3 linked regions of the Homo sapiens genome follow. The protein of the gene in region 2 interacts with the protein of the main gene of each other region in a pairwise test. Each region holds a gene or a part of one and is shown on either strand. Other genes may lie near its edges. The genes, in order: GMCL2, XAGE2 and GMCL1.

What was found.
Region 1: the proteins of XAGE2 (region 2) and GMCL2 interact in binary tests that used the Homo sapiens proteins (3 or more experiments, as listed by UniProt).
Region 3: the proteins of XAGE2 (region 2) and GMCL1 interact in binary tests that used the Homo sapiens proteins (3 or more experiments, as listed by UniProt).

The regions. Positions count from the first base shown.
Region 1 is NC_000005.10:178,183,640-178,192,023, reverse strand, and holds GMCL2 (germ cell-less protein-like 2), read left to right. Parts: upstream 1-4,652; 5' UTR 4,653-4,724; coding exon 4,725-6,305; 3' UTR 6,306-7,519; downstream 7,520-8,384. UniProt on the Homo sapiens protein: Possible function in spermatogenesis. Probable substrate-specific adapter of an E3 ubiquitin-protein ligase complex which mediates the ubiquitination and subsequent proteasomal degradation of target proteins.
Region 2 is NC_000023.11:52,364,001-52,372,200, forward strand, and holds the start of XAGE2 (X antigen family member 2), read left to right. Parts: upstream 1-5,020; 5' UTR 5,021-5,214; intron 5,215-5,992; exon of another isoform or gene 5,993-6,006; 5' UTR 6,007-6,014; coding exon 6,015-6,095; intron 6,096-6,566; coding exon 6,567-6,672; intron 6,673-8,200.
Region 3 is NC_000002.12:69,867,422-69,875,344, reverse strand, and holds part of GMCL1 (germ cell-less protein-like 1), read right to left. Parts: intron 7,647-7,923; exon of another isoform or gene 7,544-7,646; intron 5,627-7,543; coding exon 5,481-5,626; intron 3,601-5,480; coding exon 3,513-3,600; intron 1-3,512. UniProt on the Homo sapiens protein: Possible function in spermatogenesis. Enhances the degradation of MDM2 and increases the amount of p53 probably by modulating the nucleocytoplasmic transport.

The sequences.
Region 1 (8,384 bases), on a different chromosome or scaffold from region 2:
GCCAGGTGTGGTGGCATGTGCCTGTAATCCCAGCTACTTGGGAGGCTGAGGCAGAGGATCGCTTGAACCCAGAAGGCAGAGGTCGCAGTGAGCTGAGATCACAGTCTGGATGACAGAGCAAGACTCTGTATCAAAAATAAATAAATAAATAAACAAATAAATAAATAAATAATGAAAATAATAATATTTCATGACACATAAAAATTGTATGAAACTCAACTTTCAGCATCCATAAATTAACTTTGACATTCTGTCAATAGCAATCCCCCCAAATTATGGAAGTTGGTTTCATTTCTTGGTATGTACTTACCGACTTCATACCCTCGATTTTGCCTGTTGGCCCAAAGCATAAAGTATTTATTCTAGCCAGGCGCAGTGGCTCATTCCTGTAATCCCAGCAGTTTGGGAGGCCAAGGCAGGTGGATCACTTGAGGTCAGGAGTTCGAGACCAACCTGGCCAACATGATGAAACCCCATCTCTACAAAAAATTCAAAAAATTAGCCAGGCATGGTGGCACATGCCTGTAATCTCAGCTACTTGGGAAGCTGAGGCACAAGAATTGTCTGACCCTGGGAGGTAGAAGCTGCAGTGAGCCGAGATAGCGTCATTACACTCCAGCCTGGGCAACGAGAGTGAAACTCTGTCTCAAAAATAAAATAAAATAAATTAAAAATAAATAAATAAAATAGAGATCATAAGACTGACAAAACAGACTTTTTTTTTTTAGACAGAGTTTCGCTCTTGTTGCCCAGGCTGGAGTGCAATGGCATGATCTTGGCTCACTGCAACCTCTGGCCCCCGGGTTCAAGTAATTCTTCTGCCTCAGCCTCCTGAGTAGCTGGGAATACAGGCGCCCACCACCACATCCAGCTAATTTTTTGTATTTTTAGTAGAGATGGGGTTTCACTATGTTGGCCAGGCTGCTCTCAAACTCTTGACCTCTTGACCTCAGGTGATCCACCCACCTCAGCCTCCCAAAGTGCTGGGATTACAGGTGTGAGACACCGTGCCTGGCTCAAAACAGAATTTTTGTAGCAATAAGATGCCAAATTTCTACCTGACTCTGGTACATCACGTAACAGATAGCAGACCCTGAAGGGCATCAAAATATTTTACCCCAAAATATATTTATTTGACAATATTTTGAAATGGCCCTGCAAAGCTGTCTCCCATGGGGGAAATTTGCATCTGTAGAGAATTTCCATTAATGTAGCCAGGACTTTGTCAGATTTAGGAGAGATTCAATGAGAGTCTGAGACTTTTGAAGGTCTGAAAAGAGACATTCACTATCTATTCTGAGGGCTGCTACCTGGAGGCTTCATCTACGTAACAAGAACCTCAGCTTCCACAACCCCTTTCTTAACCCAAGCATTTCTTCCCACTGACTTCAACGCTTTTTTTTTTTTTTTTGAGATGGAATCTCGCTCTGTCGCCCAGGCTGGAGTGCAATGCAACCTCCACCTCCCTGGGTTCAAGCGATTCTCCTGCTTCAGCCTCCAGAGTAGCTGAGACTACAGATGTGTGCTACCACACCCAGTTAATTTTTGTACTATTAGTAGAGACAGGGTTTCACCATATTGGCCAGGCTGGTCTCGAACTCCTGACCTCGTGATCTGCCCTCCTTGGCCTCCAAACTGCTGGGATTACAGGCGTGAGCCACCATGCCTTCAACTCTTTATTTTATTTTATCTTACTATTTTTTTTGGAGATGGAGTTTCACTCTTGTTGCCCAGGCTGGAGTGCAATGGTGCGACCTCGGCTAACTGCAACATCCACCTCCCAGGTTCAGGCAATTATCCTGCCTCAGGCTCCAGAGTAGCTGGGATTACAGATGCATGCCACCACTCCCAGTTAATTTTTCTATTTCTAGTAGAGATGGGGTTTCACCATATTGGCCAGGCTGGTATTGAACTCCTGACCTCAAGTGATCCATCTGCCTTGGCCTCCCAAAGTGCTGGGATTACAGGTGTGAGCTACTGCAACTGGCCTGTTTTATTTTATTTTTGAGACAGGGTCTCATTCTGTCCCCCGAGTTGGAATGCAGTGTCACAGTCATGGCTCACCATAGGCTCGACCTCCTGGGCTTAAGTAATCCTCCCACCTTAGCCTCCCAAGTAGCTGGGACTACAGGTGCACATCACGATGCCCAATTAATTTTTAAAATTTTTTTGTAGACACCGGGTCTCACTACGCTGCCCAGGCTTGTTGAAAACTCCTGGGATCAAGCCATCCTCCTCGGCCTCTCAAAGTGCTGGGATTACAGATGTCAGTCATTGTACCCAGCCACTTCAACTCTTTAGACAAAGCTTAACTTTTTCAACCAATTGCCAATCAGAAAACCTTTGAATCACCTATGACCTGTAACTCCCCTGGAGTTGTCCTGCCCTTATAGGCTGAAGCAATGTGTACTTTACATGTATTGATTGATGTATTTGCTTGTAACCTCTGTCTCCCTAAAATGTATAAAACCAAACTATAACCCAACCATCTGAGGCACACTTTCTCAGGACCTCTTGAGACTGTACCCCAGGTCATGGTCACTCATATCAGCTGAGAATAAACTTCTTTTTTTTTTTTTTTTTTTGAGATGGAGTCTCGCTCTGTCACCCAGGCTGGAGTGCAGTGGCGCAAGCTCTGCCTCCCGGGTTCACGCCAGAGAATAAACTTCTTTAAACATTTTACAGAGCTTTTTTTTTTTTTTTTTTTTTTTTTTGGTCAACATAGACCATTCACCTGGCCCCTTAACTCCAACAGAAACTCCAGATTTGCCTTTGGAATCAGGAGGCTGAGCTTCCTGACTTCCCAACTCTGGGATTTAGAACAAGTCACTTTCCCTATTGAAACCTCTGTTTTCTTCATCTGGGAATGGGGCAGGCACTCACATAGGTTTGAGGAAGCCACAGGGCTGGTCACTCTTCACTTGTGTCCAGCGTCCCATCCACCTCCCTGGCATGACCTTGCCTCCCCCTGCAGCACTGGCCCATCTAGGGCTCCCCACACCTACATATCTGGCCCTGATGCCCCTCGCCAATCTCTGCCCCCACTGTACCAAAGATGGAGCCCCGCATGGCGACTCCTACATTGCTCTGGGGGCACAGACCTCCATCTGCCTGGAACAGCCTCCCACCTTCCTCATCAAGTCCTGTTTTCTTACAGGAAGACACCCACATGCCCCAGCCATCCCATCCCCAAGGACTGGCCAAGCAGTTCCAGCACACCCCTCGGGTGGTCTCAGTGTGTGCCCTTCTCCAGTTCCTCCGGGTCTGGGCCTGGGTCAGCCCTTTACACACACGGGGTTCCCAACAAGTAGCTTCCAGATGGCCTGGTGAGGCTGCAGGGCAAATTTCCAGGACCATGCCCCACTTCTCCACTCCATCCCCCAAGGACAAAAGCCTCCTCAATTCCGACATCCTAATCCTGCTGCCCCTGTCTCCACAGATCCTCCCCACAGAGAATCCCTGCCTATCCTGCCCAGGCCCTCTGCTTGCTTCTGCCTTCCCAGACCGGCTGCAGTGATCATTTCACCCAGCCATGGTCACTTTCACCATATTGGCCAGGCTGGTCTTGAACTCCTGACCTCGTGATCTGCCCACCTCGGCCTCCCAAAGTGCTGGGATTACAGGTGTGAGCAGCCACCGTACCTGGCTTGACTTCAAGTCTTTATTCTATTTTATTTTATCTTATTATTTTTTTCTGGAGACGGAATTTCGCTCTTGTCGCCCAGGCTGGAATGTAATGATGCGATCTTGGCTCACTGCAACTTCTGCCTCCTGGGTTCAAGCAGTTCTCCATTTCAGCCTCCCGAAAAGCTGGGATTACAGGCGTGCACCACCACACCTGGCTAAATTTTATATTATTAGTAGAGATGGGGTTTCACCATGTTGGCCAGGCCAGTCTCAAACTCCTGACCTCATGTGATCCACCCACCTTGGCCTCCCAAAGTGCTGGGATTATAGGCATGAGCCACCGAGCCTGGCCTATTTTATTTTATTATTTTATTTTATTTTTGTGCCTGGTCGCAAATTTACATTGGACTGGTTAGGCTCAAGCGTCTGGTACACACATTTTCCTTTGTCAGGTCTTGCAAATAAAACTTTGCTCCTAGGGAAGTGGTCCTTCTAAAACGGACCTTGGTTTTGGCTGCCAGATGAGAATTGCTTCCAGCAATGAAGAATGCTGTCCAAGGAGTTCAAGACCACCCGGAGAAACACAGTGAAACCTTGTCTCTAAAAGAAATTGTTTTAGGCCGGAGGCAGTGGCTCACGCCTGTAGTCCCAGCACTTTGGGAGGCCAAGGTAAGAGGATCACCTGAAGTCAGGAGTTTGAGACCAGCCTGGCCAACATGGGGAAACCCCGCCTCTACTAAAAATACAAAAATTACCCAGGTGTGGTGGCGGGCGCCTGTAATCCCAGCTACTCAGGAGGCTGAGGCAGGAGAATCACTTGAACCCGCGAGGCAGAGGTTGCAGTGAGCCGAGATCGCGCCACTGCACTCCAGCCTGGGCGACAGAGCAAGACTCCGTCTCAAAAAAAAAAAAAAAAAAAAATTGTGGGGGAGGGGTGCGGAGGTTGGAGGCGGCAGTGTCCGCTGCAACGGTTGGGGCTGCGCGTGAGAAGGTGGCGGTGTAGGCACCTGTGCTCGGGGAAGGCTGGCGGCGGCGGCCGGGCCATGGCCAGAGACCCCCTCCTCTGGGCTCCCTGAAGTCCTGGGGAGCCGTGACCCATGGGATCGTCGAGCAGCCGGGTGCTGGGCCAGCCGAGGCGAGCCCTTGCCCAGCAGGAACAGGGTGCCAGGGCCAGGGGCTCGGCCCGGAGGCCGGACACTGGAGACGATGCGGCGAGCTACGGCTTCTGTTACTGCCCGGGCAGTCACAAGCGCAAGCGGAGCAGCGGGGCCTGCCGCTACTGTGACCCGGACTCGCACAGGGAGGAGCATGAGGAGGAGGGGGACAAGCAGCAGCCGCTCCTCAACACCCCTGCAAGGAAAAAATTAAGGAGTACATCCAAATATATTTATCAAACATTATTTTTGAATGGTGAAAACAGTGACATTAAGATTTGTGCTCTAGGAGAAGAATGGCGATTACACAAAATATATTTATGTCAATCTGGCTACTTTTCTAGTATGTTCAGTGGTTCTTGGAAAGAATCCAGCATGAATATTATTGAACTGGAGATTCCTGACCAGAACATTGATGTAGACGCACTGCAGGTTGCGTTTGGTTCACTGTATCGAGATGATGTCTTGATAAAACCCAGTCGAGTTGTTGCCATTTTGGCAGCAGCTTGTATGCTGCAGCTGGATGGTTTAATACAGCAGTGTGGTGAGACAATGAAGGAAACAATTAATGTGAAAACTGTATGCGGTTATTACACATCAGTAGAGATCTATGGATTAGATTCTGTAAAGAAAAAGTGCCTTGAATGGCTTCTAAACAATTTGATGACTCACCAGAATGTTAAACTTTTTAAAGAACTCGGTATAAATGTCATGAAACAGCTCATTGGTTCCTCTAACTTATTTGTGATGCAAGTGGAGATGGATGTATACACCACTCTAAAAAAGTGGATGTTCCTTCAACTTGTGCCTTCTTGGAATGGATCTTTAAAACAGCTTTTGACAGAAACAGATGTCTGGTTTTCTAAACAGAGAAAAGATTTTGAAGGTATGGCCTTTCTTGAAACTGAACCAGGAAAACCATTTGTGTCAGTATTCAGACATTTAAGGTTACAATATATTATCAGTGACCTAGCTTCTGCAAGAATTATTGAACAAGATGGTATAGTACCTTCAGAATGGCTGTCTTCTGTGTATAAACAGCAGTGGTTTGCTATGCTGCGGGCAGAACAAGACCGTGAGGTAGGGCCTCAAGAAATCAATAAAGAAGACCTAGAGGGAAATAGCATGAGGTGTGGTAGAAAGCTTGCCAAAGATGGTGAATACTACTGGTGTTGGACGGGTTTTAACTTCGGCTTTGACCTACTTGTAATTTACACCAATGGATACATCATTTTCAAACGCAATACACTGAATCAGCCACGCAGCGGGTCTGTCAGTTTACGGCCTCGAAGGAGCATAGCATTTAGATTACGCTTGGCTTCTTTTGATAGTAGTGGAAAACTAGTATGTAGTAGAACAACTGGCTATCAAATACTTATACTTAAAAAGGATCAGGAACAAGTGGTGATGAACTTGGACAGCAGGTTTCTGACCTTCCCTTTATATATCTGCTGTAACTTCTTGTATATATCACCAGAAAAAGGAATTGAAAATAATCGTCACCCAGAAAATCCAGAAAACTGAAGATCTCATCAGTTGGAAACAGTAGCACTTTGAAAACTTTCAGGCCAGCTTTAATTTAATGGCCCTACTGATATTCACATCTAAGTTGACTAACAATGACAAAGGCCTTATGAACTGTACGGACAATACAGAAGACTATTCTTATCCTCATTGCATTTCTATGCATATACAAAAAAAATCATTTTAAAGCCAAGAAAATATCTGTCAAACCATTTCTGTCAGTACGATGTCAACTCATGCTTTTAATTCAGCATCAGCAGAAAATGACTGTAGGTAAATCTCACATTTATCTGCAACAAAATATAGATTTAATTTTTAGCTTAAACTTTGTTTCTACCTTATGTTAGTGGACCTCAGTTATCCATCTGTAAATTTATTTTTATTTGGCTAAAATAATCTAAAAGAATAATTTGGATGGCCAATTAGAAATGCTCTTTTGAGCTGGGGCATTTAAAGCTTTCCTTTAATATTTTTACCTGCTCATTATGATTCCTCCTTTTAGTCTAATATCTTTCCAGTTCATACTTGTTTTTAATCATTAAATACTTTCTTCCTGGTTTGGAGACTAAGCTGAGAAACTTTTTTTAAACTTAAGCATTGTCATATGCTATTTTTTAAAATTTGGCTTTCCTAGGATTTTAAGAACAATGAAAGTTAGCTTCACACCTTCAAATGATCTTGAATGCGTGAAAAATCAGTTTGATTCCAGGGATATTTCTTGTCTTACATGGTCTTTTCTTTGACAGTCTGTACACCTTTATTATTAGTTTTTGAGTTATTTATGTACCAGATATTATACTTTTAAATATTTTAATATTCTCTGATCTTTACAATTATTTATGTTCAAATTTTAGTTGGGAGTTTTGTTTCCTACTTAAGCTCAGGACTTGATACCCTCTGAGATGAGTGGCTTTGAGTGACATGCTAACAGCAATTTCATAGTAAATGTAAATAAGGTCAGAGGATCTAACATAGAAGCTGATGACGCATTAATGTAAAAATGGAACTTATTTTTGTCAAAAATAAGATGTACACTTGTCATGATTTATATATGTTGACCTTTTGTGTTTACTGCTGTTTTGAATAGAGCCATGTTCATTTTCTTTCCAGTTAGAGTAAGTACTTCTGTGGTTAATGTATATTTTTATTCTGGCTTTTAAAATGGGAATAATTTGTATGTATCTGTGCAAATAATAAATGCGCATTTGGAAAAAGATTAAGTAAGCTCTTATATGAAATGGACCAAAAAACCCCCCTTAATTGAAACCAACATTTTTTTTCTTTCTAGTTAGATTTTTTTCCAACTCCTTTTAACTTTTGGAATTTACTAATAATTTTTTTTCTTTCTTAATGATATGTCCATAGGTTCATAAATTGCTTTTTCTTTTAAAATTCATCTACTTGGTTTAACTTAAAGGAACCTTTTAAATGCCTCACCCTTGACCCCCAGAGCTGGAATTTAAATGTTTCTAATACAGTGATTTGGCTGTTATCAAGAGGTTACATTTCAGCTGGGCGTCAGCCGGGCATGGTGGCTCACACATGTAAGCACAGCACTTTGGGAGGCCGAGGCAGGCGGATCATTTGAGGAGTTTAAGATCAGCTATGAGCAACATGGTAAAACCCCATCTCTACTAAAAATACAAAATAAAAATAAGCCGGGCCTGGTGGCACACACCTGTAATCTCAGCTACTTGGGAGGCTGAGGCAGGAGAATCACTTGAACCCGGGAGGCAGAGGTTGCAGTGAGCGGAGATCGCACCACTGCACTCCAACCTAGATGACAGAGTGAGATTCCGTCTCAAAAAAAAAAAAAAAAAAAAAAAAGAGGTTACGTTACTTATTTTTGTATTTGACTATATTAGGCCTCTTTCACGGGAAGCTGTTGTTTTCTTTCCATCTCATTACCGTATAAGAGGTTCCTGACCCTTTATGTATTGAAAAATATAGAAATACCAAACTTAAATTATTTGGATAATTAAATTTTTGCAAATCTTGGAAGGAAAGATAATGTTTGAGTATATTAATGAATAAAGTTAACTGTTTCATTACACTTACATAAGTTAACTGGCCAAATTG
Region 2 (8,200 bases):
AAGATCTAACATCAAATACTGATATTTAATTGCATTGAACTCCTCCAATTATGTAAGGAAAAGTTTTTAAGAATAAATATTCGTGCTTGAAAATATCTTTGAATACATGTAAAATGGATCAAAACTGAATACCACAGATGTTGCTGTCACTGGATGCCAATAAAGTACATAATAGGAACCATAAGACACAATCAATAATAAAGGGGGAAATAAAAGGGAACATATCAAAGCACCATCACACGAGTGCAGAAGCACACACATGAACACACCCTGCAGCTGCAGAAAGACATGGTGGGAAGTAAAGCCCCACAACTCATCAGCCTTCCTTCTCACCAACTCATGAGTCCACAAGTGAGTTTGCTGAGAGTCAAATGCTCACAGTAAAACTGACAAATTTAAACATCACTCAGAGCTATTTCAAGCATTATGTAGAAAGCTACAGACAACAGTGAACTTGCTCTTAGCAAGTCTTAATCTATCATCCTCATCAATGGCTAAAGAAATTGTCCCTAGACATTTTGTCCAATAACTTCTAAAGTAATGACCTTCAAACTTTTTAAATTACAATTCATGGGAAATACATAGTTTGTATATAATTCAGTAGGGAAATAAATATATGTATGTGTATGTGTGTGTGCAGTCTGTTTGAATATTCTATATGCAGTGAATGCTATTTACTAATTTATTTTATCTCATTTCTTCAAAATGCTGTTTGTGGAGGACAACGTTAATCTTATGAACCACTATGGATGACAAACCAGTATGGAAAAGATTAAAGCCTTTTCACAAGATATCCTCAATGGTTAATAAGTGTTATTATAGAAGTATATGAAAAGACACATGAGAACCCAATGTTGTCTTCCTCCTTCGGAATTCAGTCTTTTCAGAAAAAAAATGGTCGTTTTTGTTTGTTTTTTTTTTTTTTGTTTTGAGACAGAGTCTCCCTCTGTCACCCCAGTCTTGGCTCACTGCAACCTCTGCCTCCCAGGTTCAAGCGATTCTCCCACCTTAGCCTGCCGAGTAGCTGGGATTACAGGACTGCACTACCTCACCTGGCCAACTTTTGTATTTTTAGTAGAGATGGGGTTTCACAATGTTGGCCAGGCTGATCTCGAATTCCTGACCTCAAGTGATCCACCCTTCTCGGCCTCCCAAATTGCTGGGAATACAGGTGTGTGCAACTGCACTTGGCCAAAAACGTGGTCTTTGATATGGGCCACAAAGGCTACCACGAAATATGTAATTACAGAGGAAATGTGTGTTCCATCAGCAGATAACCATGTCTGTTTTGCACAGGTGAAGTGTTACTTGGACAGACATAAAATCACATGCAAAAGGGACAGAAAGTACATGTGACCTCTTGTCCTCTTGGTATCATGAGGAGGCTTTGTTTGGGCTGCAGCATAGCTGAATGTCATGAATTGCATCCATTCACGCGGACCTCCCTGTGAATGCACAGGGACCTCCATTTCCCTTTTGTGCTCCCGCTTTATGAGGCAAATAGGGGAGTTGCAATTAACATGGTAGGTAGTAAATAATTTGACCTCAACCAACAAGCAATCTGAAGAGCTCAGGTGACAGTGTTTACTATGGTACTCTGAAAACTGCCAGCTGCTCAGAATCTGTAGACTTTGTCCCACCCAGCCACAGTCCTGTGGAAATCTCAGTTTGTTCATATTCCAGTGCTTGGAGGATGGGAAGGTCTTGTCATGTGGTGAAATTGAGCCCACCCACAGGTAGATGGGCTGTGTTGGTCCCAGCTCCAACTTCTCCTTTAGCAGCCCTCAGAGTTGCTAGCGTCATGTATCAGGCAAGTCTTCTTGCCTCTAAAGAGTTTCTCATACTTTCTGCTGCTTCCTGTGAGTGTCACAAGGGCTACTTCACAACTTGCTCCCATCCCAATCCAATTATGATCCTTTGAACTCATCCAGCTGGACCAGGGTCACCTGCCATGGGAATAACAGGAGGAAGCTCAAATTTGGGAGGAAGTTAAAACCTGCCCTTTGAAGCTGGAGTGTGTCCACTCAGGAATCATTAAAATCCAGGTCCTTGTGAAGCACATCCATCCAGCCATCTGATGGCATGACTTTGACCATTTGCTAATTCGATGCTCACAGAAAATCTAAACCCAGATGTCACTATCTCTCATTCTTTGAACATTTCTGAGTGCACTATACTAAAAACCGGAGTTAATAAGGGAAAAATGCAAGTAAAATTTAGTAATGACAATGTCCTTGCCAAGAAAAAACAAAAAAGATAACAGATAAACTAAATAATAGTTTATGAGTGCCCTCACTCCTTAAATAAACTTTGAGAACTACAATGACTACTCAAGCCACTTTTTGGAGACAGAGATTGAGGAATCTCTTTTTTCCTACTCAGGGTATTTCCTTAAAAGGAGTGCAGCTGTGGCCAGGCACGGTGGCTCACACCTGTAATCCCAGCACTTTGGGAGGCCGAGGTGGGCGGATCACTTGAGGTCAGGAGTTCGAGACCAGCCTGGCCCACATGGTGAAACTCCGTCTCTACTAAAAATACAAAAATTAGCTGGGTGTATTGGCACGTGCCTATAATCCCAGCTACTTGCGAGCCTGAAGCAGGAGAATCACTTGAATCTGGGGGGCAGATATTGCAGTTAGCCAAAGATCATGCCACTGCACTCCAGTCTGGATAATAGAGTGAGACTCCGTCTCAAAAGAAAAAAAAAAAGAAGCTCAACTAGATAGAATATATAGATGTCAGTTCAACAATATATCCTAATTTATTTATAAAAGGCTACATTCTGATCAGGGCTCCCTTCCTATCCTTCCCTTCCATATACTATTCCCCACATTAACTGCTAGGTAATATAAAAGTAATAAGAACAGGAGTCATGGACATAGTTTACTGTCTACATTAACAAGAGTTTATATTCCACTGTCTTCATTATCATAATTTTACTAATACAGGAATCTCTTACCAAGGAAAATAAAAGTTTCAAAAAAACTTTATTGTTCTTTCCAGCAATTGCCTGAAAGATCCATCAACTCCTCAATAAAAAGTGTCAAATGACATTTTTCAATCCCAAAACTCTTTGAACCCATTGCCTAAAAAGTCTTGTTGCATCCACCAATCCTAAATCATTGTCATTCCTACCCAATTCTAACCAAACCATCCCCCACTTTAAAATACCCACTTTATACCGGACATGAAAAGCACAACAAATATACCCAAAGCCCTTCCACATCTGACATACTAGTGCCTCTGTGGAGGTAGTGCTCTACCTTATAGCTTTATTTAAATAATGTCAGCGCTGTCTTATGAACAGGTTATTTGGCTGCTATTTGGGGAGTAGAGTATATGATGAGCACAGTCACCACTGCTGTACATCATGTCACAATAAACTAAGTTTAAATCCTAGGACCAATGTTGTATTAGTCCGTTCTCATGCTGCTATAAGGACATACCTGAGAGTGGGTAATTTATAAAGGAAAGAGGTTTAATTGACTCATAGTTCTGCAGGGCTGGGGAGGCCTCTGGAAACTTAACAATCATGGAAGAAGTGGAAGCAAACACATCCTTCTTCACATGGCAGCAGGAGAGAGAAGAGTGAGCAAAAGGGGAAAAGCCCCTTATAAAACCATTAGATCTTGTGAAAACTTACTCACTATCAGGGGAACAGCATGAAGGTAACCACCCCATGATTACATTACCTCCCACAGGGTCCTTTCCATGACATGTGGGGATTATGGGAACTACAATTCAAGGAGAGATTTGGGTGGGGACAGAGTCAAACCACATCATATGTATGGATATTTCTGAACCATACACTGTCTGAATGACCTACAGGTATATTCAGGGAAATCAGTTACCAGTCCAGAGATTAAAATGTGCAATAATACCACCTAAAAAAGGAAGAGGTGTGAATTTATTTAGTCTACAGAAGTGGTTCTATTCATTGGTAGCATGGCAGAAAACCTCAGACCAGAGAAGGAAGTGATTAATCAAAGTATGAATAAAAATTGGCCAAGGTGGGAGGATCACTCGATCCCAGAAATTGAGACCAGCCTGGACAATGTAGTGAGATTCTGTCTCTAAGTAAATAAATAAATAAAATAGCTGGGCATGGTGGCACACACCTGTAGTCCCAACTACTTCGGAGGCTGCGTCTTGAGTATTGCTTATGCCCAGGAGATCCAGGCTGCAGTGAGGTAAAGTCATGCCATTGCCCTCCATCCAGGGCGACAAAGTAACACCCTGTCTGGAAAAAAAAAGCATGTATAAATATAAACATTAAAATAATTTATTTCTGTCACAAAAGGTCTTTCTGAGACACATCAACCACTAAGGGTGACATGGGACTCTCTGTTCCCAAAGTTTCTGGATGCATGAGAATGGTAGGACAAGAGAGAGAGAAAAAAAAATATCTCTTAAGTCCCTTTCTTTCTACTACAAACATACTGGGGATTCTGGTTTTGGGACAGTGGGAAAACCCTGGCTGGCCTTGCATGTGCCTGACTCAGTGTGAACGCCCCTTACTGCCCAAGTCCCTTGTTGCCCATGCGCCTTACTGTCTGCCTTCTGTCCCAGCAGAGCTGTGCAAAGAGACATCGTGACTTCCTTCTGTCTTGCCGACTAGGAGTCAGCCAGTAGGTCTGCAGTTCAGTAGTCCTAGAAGTTTGAGTGTGAGTGAGTGTGAGGAGGAGCCTGCGGGCACGATCCATGGCCTCCTAGGTGGAAGGGCTTTGAGGTCCCCGTCCTTCTAACACGCAGCGATGCAGCCATGGCCTTGCTGTGGTGGGGGTGCCGGACAAGGGAGGGAGAAGGACCATAGATGGGAGGAGGGTCAGGTAAACAAGCAGTGAGTTTTGAAGGGGGAAACTATTTGTGGTATTTGAGTCCGCGAGGCATATGAAACTGCTTACAGACGATGCATTCCAGAGTCCTCAGTGGGAACCAGGGAGGGGAGGGAGGACTGCATGACGCGGGATGGGGTGGGGCGAGGCGGGGCACTGCAGCACACAACGCAGGCACCGACTTCAGTGTGCATGTTCCTTGGACACCTGCCTCAGTGTGCATGTTCACTGGGCATCTTCCCTTCGACCCCTTTGCCCACGTGGTGACCGCTGGGGAGCTGTGAGAGTGTGAGGGGCACGTTCCAGCCGTCTGGACTCTTTCTCTCCTACTGAGACGCAGCCTATAGGTCCGCAGGCCAGTCCTCCCAGGAACTGAAATGTGAGTGAATGTGAGGAGGAGTGAGCGGGCTTCCAGAGGGTCAGGCGGCGTGGTCTGTGGCCTCAGAGAGTAAAAAGCTTCCAGGTCATAAGGAAGGTGGGCCGCGGAGTGAAGGGGAGCCAGATGAAGATAGGGTGAATGCTCGGGGTGCTGTTGGAGGTATCTGAGTCCCGAAAGTGCCTGGAACTCCCAATGGGACAGATTCCAGACTTCTTGGTAGGGACCCAGGAATGGGCTGTGTAAGCGGTAAGAAAGGGGCCTGGGAAGTGGGAATGCTATGAGCTGGTGACCGCGACCCCGAGGTCTGTAGAGCTCCGGGTAGAAATGTCCAGCGAGGAGCGTCCAGTGATGTGTCACAACTTCTCAACTCCACCCTGGAGGTTCGAATGGGCGGGACTGTGCTTTCCAACAAAACCTTGATTTTAGGGAGGGAAATCGTCCAAACAAATGGGTGTGTGACGAAAGCCGTGGTCACTGCAGTTTTAATTCTCTAGCTGTATAAACTTAAATGTCTCCACTATGGAGAATCCAACTGTGAAACCAAATCTCATCAGAAATATCCTGTATCTTTTGCCAGGAGCATTAAGACATTGCTCTGCTAGATTGCCCAACTTAAGTGGCTATGCAAGCATTCGATTCAGAAGATGTACACACTTCTAGTTGCCCTGGGACTTACTTTCAAATTATTTCCAAACTTTTTTAAAAACTGAAATTTAACATTTGGCCATGAAAGTGGTCAAATACAGCTATCCTCTCAAACACACTTTCCCAATCACAGTATTCTGTTTGCAGAGTGAAATATGAGTTGGCGAGGAAGATCAACATATAGGCCTAGGCCAAGAAGAAGTTTACAGCCTCCTGAGCTGATTGGGGCTATGCTTGTGAGTGCTTTAATATTTTGATGTTTTTTATTAGCAGAAATTTCTTTTGTGATAGTGTTGTTGAACTAGTATAGATACACTGATAAAGGTCTTCCATGTTGATAAAAATGATCATGCATCTCATGAAGGAAAGACTAATCCAAGAGTATTACAATCTGATTTTGCCTTCATGGATAATCTTGTGTTCCCCATCATGACTTCCTCCTCATGCTTACTGATAACAGATTGCACACATCCAACCCAACATAGATTAAAATGGTTTCCAAAGCCTTTGAGGGTAACTGTCTTAGAGTAACCTCTCTTTGGGAAGAGTAACTTTGTGAAGAATAAGTATGTGGAACAGTGTTGGAGAAGTGTCTTTAGACTTACTTGTGATTAGAAATACCTGTGTATTCTGTATATTTGTATTATTGACATGTATTACTAACAAAACTTTTTATCTGCACACATACTGCCTCCCCTTTGTCCCAGGAACCCACTGATGAAGAGCCTAAAGAAGAGAAACCACCCACTAAAAGTCGGAATCCTACACCTGATCAGAAGAGAGAAGATGATCAGGGTGCAGCTGAGATTCAAGGTGCTGGGAAAGGAAAGAAATAATGCCTATAGGGGGAAGGAGGCCTATGTGTCCATCATGCCTTATGCCATGACCAGTAATAGGAGGAAAGAAAACATTAGGAAAGGATCTCAAGCACTTGCTCAAAGTAGGCTGGAAAAGTGAAGAGTATAGTTTGCAGCTTCATGCAGTCCCTGGATATAATAAATCTTCTCTTTTTTTCAAGATTTATTTTGTATGCTTGAAAATACATCCCTTGCTAAATCAGATGAAACTGTTTAATTTGATGTATCAAAATGTACATTATTTCACTTGATTAATTTGATCTTCTTAGAATGTTGCTGTATGATTGGCTCAGCCATGGTGTCCACAGTGTTATAAGCACCCTTTTATAGCATATAGAGTGCCAAGTCACCCTACCTTATAACACCCTGAATAAAGCCCATTTGCATAGGGATATTAGCCCTATTTTATAAAAAGGAAATGGTTGCTCAGAGATAGAGGCTTACCAAGAACGCTTGAGTCATGGAGGCAGAATTCATATTACGTTCCAAGGTCTGTGTTCTTCCTAACATCTACGTTATTAGAAAACGTGAATTATTTTGCTTAAAACGCTTAATACTCGAATGTGTCTGTACTGTAAGGTACTTGAGTATTGGCTCAGGAGAAAACAAATTCAGTGAAGCAGGATAGCAAATCCGGAAAAGGGCTCAATGAATGACAGCCACTGTTCCCTTTGATCAGTATTTTTTGACAGTATGTTTGGTAAAAGGTGGATAGTTCAGGACACTGGCATACAGGTAGGTATATTAGTATGCTTTTTAAGGAACTTTTAAAAGTTGCCTAAATACTTTTATAATTAGAAAACTCAAAGTATGATACAATTATCATGAAACAGAAATTGTGTCCTCAACAGATAGCATTTTCAAGCTAAAGTTGACGGAATTTGGACCATGGATTATTTTAGCAGTTCACGGTTAAGAGGTTTCCAGAATATGACTGTCAACAACACTCATTACTTTCTTTCACTCAATTTCCTGAATTCTCATGGGAAAACTGTGACTTTTTTTCCTCTTATTTTTGGTACTATATTCTCAATAGGATTTATTTATGAAAAGTTACATTTAGGGCCTTTGGACCTAAGCATAATTTTAATTAATTTTAACCAAATAATTTTCAAATTACCTCAGCAAGATATGGTTGTCACAATTGTAAGTTTTTGTCATAAGCCCAGGAATACATTGATCTAGTCTTTCAGAAAATTATCTTTGAGTTATTATTAAAATGCTATTCATGCAGCAAACTTCAGATATCTTACATAGTTGATACTCACTGTTTATAATGCACACTGGCAAAGTATAGGAAATGAAGGTGTAGTGTGATTTATCCTTAGATTGTCATTTTATATTAGATTTCAGGCCAGGTACATTGGCTCACACCTGTAATCCCAGCACTTTGGAAGGCCGAGGCTGGTGGGTCCCTTGAGCCTGAGAGTTAGGAACTAGCCTGGGAAACATGGGGAAACACCAGAAAATTTTCTCTGCCAAAA
Region 3 (7,923 bases), on a different chromosome or scaffold from region 2:
TCTTCATAACAAAGAAATCAATAAAACAAAAAGTCCAGAAATGAAAGCAAGTTTATAAGTATTTCATGTACAATAAGGCATTTCAAATACATTGATACATCCAGTACATTTCAGATATATCGTCAAATACTCCAAAGTAAAAAATTAAGCCATAAAAAGAACAGAAGAATATATAGATGACTATTTATATAATCCTAGTAAGATGGAGGCCTAAGGATAACACCAAAAAAAAGAAATCATAAAAGAAAAAGATAGATTGTTTTGAAGGTTGAAAAGACAAATGACAAAAATGTAAAAACTGTTTGGGCCTGGTGGCTCATGCCTGTAATCCCAGCACTTTGGGAGGCGGAGGCAGGTGGATCACTTGAGCCTAGGAATTCCAGACAAGCCCAGGCAACGTGGCAAAACCTCGTCTCTATAAAAAAATACAAAAAAGTTAGCTGGGCATGGTGGTGCGAGCCTGTAGTCTCAGCTACTTGTGAGGCTGAGGTGCGTGGAAAGGTTGGGCCCAGGAGGTGGAAGCTGCAGTGAGCCAAGATTGTACCATTGCACTCCAGCCTGAGTGACAGAGTGACAACCTGTCTCGGAAAAAAAAAAAAAAGTAAAAACTATAGAGTATCACAAATGTATTTTTAATATATAAAAGCTGTTAAAAATTAGCAAGAAAAAAATGAAATTTTAATAAAAAATTAAACAGGAACAATATAAGCTGTCAGTTTACATGAGATGATACGTTCAATAAGCATAAAAAAACCCAACAATACAGTAACCAAAGAAATGAAAATTGAAAATTAAGGGCCAGGCGCGGTGGCTCACACCTGTAATCCCAGCACTTTGGGAGGCCAAGGCAGGTGGATTACTTGAGGCCAGAAGTTCAAGACCAGCCTGGCTAACATGGTGAAATCCTGTCTCTACTAAAAATTAGTGCACTCCAGCCTGGGCGACAGAGCAAGACTCTGTCTCAAAACAAACAAACAAAAAGAAATGAAAATTAAAACAAATATTTGTTTTCACATTTACTACGCTGGGATAGAGATGAAAAAGAATAAGATACAATATTGGGTATACTCTCCTGTACTGCTGCCAGGGGGAAGTATAAATTGGACAGTAGCTTTGGAGGGCAATTTGGCCATTAGAAAATTGTATGCACCATGCAACAAGAATTCTACTTCTTGGAATTTATGCTTTAAAAATATCATAAAAATGGACAAAGATATATGTATATTTCCTATAGTAATGAAAAAAAATGAGAAACAACTTTATCCAATAAAGAGGAATTATCTAAGTTACGGTATAGCCAAAACAACTAATATTATGCCGTTCATAAAAATGATGCTGTGAATATATATTTATTGACCAAAAAAAGCTATGTACAACAAAGTGAAAAAAAAAAAAAAAGGTTACAATTACTACCTCACTGTCTGATGCACCTAGGCTCACCTGGCCTTGGGCTCTGAAAGAGGACCAAGCCTTTCTTCTACTGGGCCCAGGCCAGGTGACCCCATTTTGCCTCTCCCCCAGGCCTGACCACTATGCGACCAACAAGTTCTCCCAGGCCACTGACTTGGCCATGAAGAAGACAGAGGACAACAATGCACTTGTGTTCATTGTGGATGTCGAGGTCAAAAAGCATAAGATCAAACAGGCTGTGGAGGAGCTCTATGACACCAATGTGGCCAAGATCAACACCGTGATCAGGGCTGATGGAGAGAAGAAAGCCCATGTTCAGCTGGCTCCTGAGCATGCTGCTTTTAGAGGCTGCCAAAAAATTGGGATCATCTAAGTTGAATCCAGCTGGCAAATTCTAAATATATATGTTTTTCACCATTAAAAAAAAAAGCAGGTTACAAAATAGCTAACCTACTGTGATCCAATTTTGCAAAAATGATACAGGTGAAGGAAAAACTCAGCAATGTATCTGAGTGGTACATGTATGATTGTTGTTTCAGCTGACTCATATTTTCTATTTTTTCGACAACATCTATAACCTATATAAAACACGGAGACAACTCCCAAAGTAAATCTCCCAAACTCCATCCACAGCCCTCATGCCCTGGCTCTAGTTATACTGAACTCTTCCAACCATCTTTCAGTTCCTTGAATATGACCCATGTATTCCCTTGCTTCCGGAAATCTTACTCACCATTTGAGGCTTGGTTCAGGTATGCATTCACTTTAACACTTTTCCAGGAGAGGATGTTTTCCCTGAGCTGTCTTTCTTTCTCCTCCTCCTCCAATAACCACCCCCAACCACGGCAGCTGCTCAGTTACAGGTCAGAGTCTTCTCCCTCAAGGTTGCACACTCTGAGCTAATTCTATCATGCTACTTACACTAGGCTATATTAACACAAGCCTGTCTTTATTTCTTCTACTTCTAGCTGAGAACCAAGCACATGGTGGGGACACAAATGTTTGCTGAAGGAACATGGGAATACAACTATTATCTTGGCCTGGTGCTTTTTTAGGTCTCTGGCTGGGTTTGAGCCATGACAGTATTTTTCATGAAGTTTCAGGTAGAAGATAAAGATAGTCATTGTCTGTTCAGCTGCAGAGGTTACAAGAAGGACCAACAGAGAGTTCTGATGGAGGCAGATTTGGACTTTCTCATTATATACCTGCCTTGAAATGGACATTCCTACATATTACCTTTCATGTAAGATGGGGGTCAGTTAGAGTTTCAACAATGGGTGGATGACCCCCTCTGTAAGAATGCTGTTAAAAGAAGTTCTCATATAGGGCATGTGAGGTTACAATGATCACTTCCGGGGTTACTTGCAATGCTAAGGATGTTCTATGATAGTCTCTTCAGTCTGAGGAAAACTACTAACTTCTCATAATTTATGTAAACTATAACAGGCTTTGAATCCTTTAATAAAACATTATGCCCTTTGGAATGATGATTACTTTTAATAGAAATAAAGTTCCTCAATATTTTAACAGCTTTCAGTTTTACTTTTAAAAATGGTCTACTTTCTCATCATGACACTTTGAAACTTCTCCATGTGTGTGATGTATGAATAAATAAATGGCTTTGGAGATAATCTGGGGAACATTGCAGAGTTTGCCATCTTACGAACCTAATGGGCTAGAGAATAATGCTCTTATGATATTCGGAGCTATGGAGACATACAGGATTGTCTTTAAGATGCCTGCTGTGAATGTATAAATAAATGCACTATGTACACAATGGATAAAGCACTTAAGATTCCTAAAATTTTAGGAATGAATTTTAGTGCTGCTGATATTCAGGATAAACAATTATTTCCTTATAATCAGTGTTTCCCTGCCCCTCAAACAGTGTTTTCTTTTTTTCTCCTAATTATGCTTCCATTGGGATGGGGTCAATTATGCATAAGTGAATGTGGTACTTTCATCTTTACCTTCAAAAGACTTTTAAACCAACTTTTAGGTCAAAATGCCATCACTTTAATGTTAATTCTACTTAAGAATTTTCAAAAGAGGATTCAAAAGACAAATATTATGATGACATACCAGAAGATAATCGAACATACCTGATCCTTTTCAAGTGTAAGTATTTGATAGCCAGTTGTTCTACTACATATTAGTTTTCCACTACTATCAAAAGAAGCCAAACGTAATCTAGGATTAAAAAAAAAATAAAAAATAAACACAAGATTTTTAAACCACAGATTAAACAAGCTCTTCCTTACTTTCATATTTACTTTTTCCTCTGTTTTTTATTTGATAAAAGACTTTTAGGAAGTCTTTTCAAACTGTAATCTGACTGCATTCAGTGACAAGCCTGTGCTATTATACATATCTGGCCAAGAGAAATCATTTATAAATGTTTTTATTGTGGTAAAATATACGTAACATTTATCATTTTAACCATTTTAAAGTATATAGTTCTGTGGCATTAAATATATTTCCACATTGTTCTGCACCCATCTCTAGAACATTTTAATTTTCCCTCGCTGAAGCTCCTTACCCATTAAACACTAACTCCCCACTTTCCCTTCCCTCAGGCCCTGGCAACCACCAGTGTATCCTCTGTACCTATGAATTTGTCTACTCTAGGTACTTCGTATGAGTGGAATCTTACAATATTTGTGCTTTGTGAGTGGCTTATTTCACTTGGCATGTCTTCCAGGTTCATCCATGTTTAGCATGTATGAGAATTTGCTTCCTTTTCAAGGCTAAATAATGTTCTATTTTATGTATATACCACATTTTGTTTCTCTAGCATCTGTCAGTGAACATGTGGGTTGCTTCCACCTTTTGGCTATTGTGAATAATGCTGTTATGAACATAAGTATACAAAAATATCTGTTTAAGTCCCTATTTTCAATTCTTCTGGTCTATAGAAGAGAAACTGCTGGATCATATGGTAATTCTGTTTAATTTTTTTGAGGAAGTGTCATACCATGCTCCATAGTGGCTGTGCCATTTTACATGGCCACGAGCAGTACACAAGGGTTCTAAATACTCCACATCCTTGCCAACACCTGTTACTTTTGTTGTTTTTTTTCTATTCTGTTTTTACTAATAGCTATCCTAATAGGTGTGAAGTGATAGCTCATTGTGATTTTGGTTTGTATGTCCCTAATTAGTAATGTTGAACATCTTTTCATGTGTTTATTAGCCATTTATATATCTTCTTTGGAGAAATGTTTATGGAAGTCTTTGGCCCATTTTTGAGCTGAGTTGAGTTTTCTTTTTAAATTATAGAGTTGTAGGAGTTTTCTATATATTCTGGGTATTAATGTCTTATCAAATGTAGCGTTACAAATATCTGCTCTCATTCCATGGGTTGCCTTTTCACTGTCTTGACACTGTCCTCTGATACACAAGTTTGTGATTTTGATGAAGTCCAATTTTATCTACTGCTTCTTTTGTTGCCTGTGCTTGGGTGTCTTATGGAAGAAATCACTGCCAAATCAATTGTTATGAAGCTTTTCCCCTATGTTTTCTTCCAAGAGTTTCATAGTTGCAGTTCTTATGCTTAGATCTTTGATCCATTTTAAGTTAATTTTTGTATTTGGTGTAAGGTAAGTATAAATATATGACTTTTAAATCATGTTCATTAAGCTACTGTCCAATTTGTCAGCTTCTGGTATCCTCTCAGAAAAAGATTGCCAGCAACTACTGGGCAAAATTTAACATATTAAATCCTTTAAAAAGTTAAGGATAATATGTGTTTTCCTGGAAACATACCTTGCTACATATTTCAACAGTCTGGATCTTTTATTTGCTAGGAATAGCAACAAGGCAACGACTTCAAGGCTGATATTCCCTACTGGTATATATTCCAGCCTATTCATTCTCCCTGACATACTAGATCCTATGATTCTGATTACTAACAATAGATTTCACAGGAATGGAGCCTCGTCATTTCCTACCACTTCCACATATACTGTAGCTTACCAAAGTTCTACTAATGTTGGTGTAAATTATCAAGGTTTTATTTCTTATATTTTCTCTGGAGTGAGGAGGAGTGGGGTGGGGAAATCTCATCCTACCTAAATGCTATGCTCCTTCGAGGCTGTAAACTGACAGATCCGCTACATGGCTGATTCAGTGTATTGCGTTTGAAAATGATGTATCGATTGGTGTAAGTTACAAGTAGGTCGAAGCCGAAGTTAAAACCTGTCCAACGCCAGCAGTACTAAAAAATACAAGAGAGAAGACTTATTTCAGTTTATCATATTAGCAAGTAGAAAATAAAAAATTCAAAATGTCTTTTTGTCTCTAACTCATTCCAAGTATTTCCCTCATGGGTGGTCGACTTTTTGTCAGTGACTTTTTCTTAAGGCTTACCACCCAAAACTATTTATCTAAGCTAGAAAAGCTGCCCTTAATGATCATAATTCTCTAAGCTACTTTCCTCTTCATGATCAGTTTCCTTATCTCTCCATACTGCAATTCTACCATAAATAATAAGGCTTTTTTTTTTTTTTTTTTTTTTTGAGACAGAGTCTCATTCTGTCACTCAGGCTGGAGTGCAGTGGCATGATCTTGGCTCACTGCAACCTCCACCTCCCGGGTTCAAGCGATTCTCCTGCCTCAGCCTCCCAAGTAGCTGGGACTACAGGTCCCTGCCACCACGCCCGGCTAATTTTTTTTTTTTTTTTTTTGAGACAGAGGTTTGCTCTAGTTGCCCAGGCTGGAGTGCAATGGCATGATCTTGGCTCACCACAACCTCCACCTCCCGGGTTCAAGCGATTCTCCTGCCTCAGCCTCCTGAGTAGCTGGGATTACAGGCATGCGCCAAGCCTGGCTAATTTTGTATTTTTAGTAGAGACGGGGTTTTTCCATGTTGGTCAGGCTGGTCTCGAACTCCCGACCTCAGGTGATCCGCCCGCCTCGGCCTCCCAAAGTGCTGGGACTACAAAGTGTAAGCCACTGTGCCCGGCCTTTTTTTTTTGTATTTTGAGTAGAGACGGGGTTTCACTATGTTGGCCAGGCTGGTCTTGAACTGCTGACCTTGTGATCCACACGCCTCGGCCTCCCAAAGCGCTGGGATTACAGGCGTGAGCCACTGCACCCAGCAATAATAAGGCTTTTCACTGCAACTCTAAGTGGGTATATAGCTTAGAGCACTAAGAGTTTCTAGAGCACTAAGGTAATTAAGAGCCCATTAAAATCCACCTTGCTTTAAAAATACTCTTAAGGGCTGGGTGTGGTGGCTCACGCCTGTAATCCCAGCACTTTGGGAGGCCGAGGCGGGTGGATCACCTGAGGTCTGAGGTTCAAAAACAGCCTGGCCAACATGGCGAAACCCCATCTCTACTAAAAATACAAAAAAGAATAAAAAAAAATAAAAATAAAAATAAAAATAAAATACTCTAACTCAAGTAACACACAACTGGGTTATTTAAATATCATCATGGGGTTCACGAGTTTGTTTATTCTATCAGCTAATAGTTAATGTGAGAGTATCAGATAAGGTAGTGTGATACAGAGAAGTAGTTAGGGCTTCAAGTGTTTGGCTGACACCCTGAATTGCAATTCAGTATTTAACTGATATTTATTGAGCACATATTATATGCCAGGCACTCCTCTAAGCAATGGAATCATAGCAGTAAATAACATACAGTTTCTGCCCTAGTAGAGGTGATAACTGTAAGGGCAAAGCTTTTTTTTTTTTAAAGAGACAGGGTCTCGTTATATTGCCCAGGCTGAACTCTAACTCCTGGGTTCAAGCAATTTTTCCACCTAAGCCTCCCAAGTAGCTGGAATTGCAGGTGCATACCACTGTGCCTGGCTGGAGCAAAGCTTTTGAATAGGTGAGCATGGATAGAGTCCAGTACAAAGAGAGGGAATGGACTAAGATAGAAGTAGGCAGTTCATTTTTCTAATAAGATGAAATGCATAGCGCATAGCTACAGGTGCAGGTAGACTGGCAGAACTACTGGTAAGATGATGTACAGATTCTCTTTTCATTGCAGTAGGCAGCAAGGCCATCAGATAAGAATAAGGGTGGGAGCATTGCCCTTTTAAGGAGAGAAGGTATGAGTTACCTCAGCTAATGGGAGGATCAATTCACTAGGAAAATGCAGACAGATCATGATGCAGCACTAACCTACTTCAAGTTCATGGTTACCACATTCAAGTGGAACCCAATGGGGTACGGTGTTTGTCTTTAATCACATTCATCTGTCTGGATGCAGGCATGGAGTGCAACCCTTGACAAGAGTTGGGGTTTAGCCAGGTGAGTTTAACATGTCAATGAGGAAAAAGAAAAGTTAAAAGAGTATAAGCAAGGGACCAATTTTACGATGGAACATAAAATATAAGTCAAGCAAAATAAGAAGTAGAAATGTGGTCAGAAAGGTGATAGGGAAAGGTTGTAAAAACAATGTATTGTATATCCAGAATGGAGTTAAAAAATTGTTGGAGTCCAGGTGCTAGAGAGAATGAGCTAGAAAGACGAGGTGGGGTCTGAAAACGGGATGCCTGAAA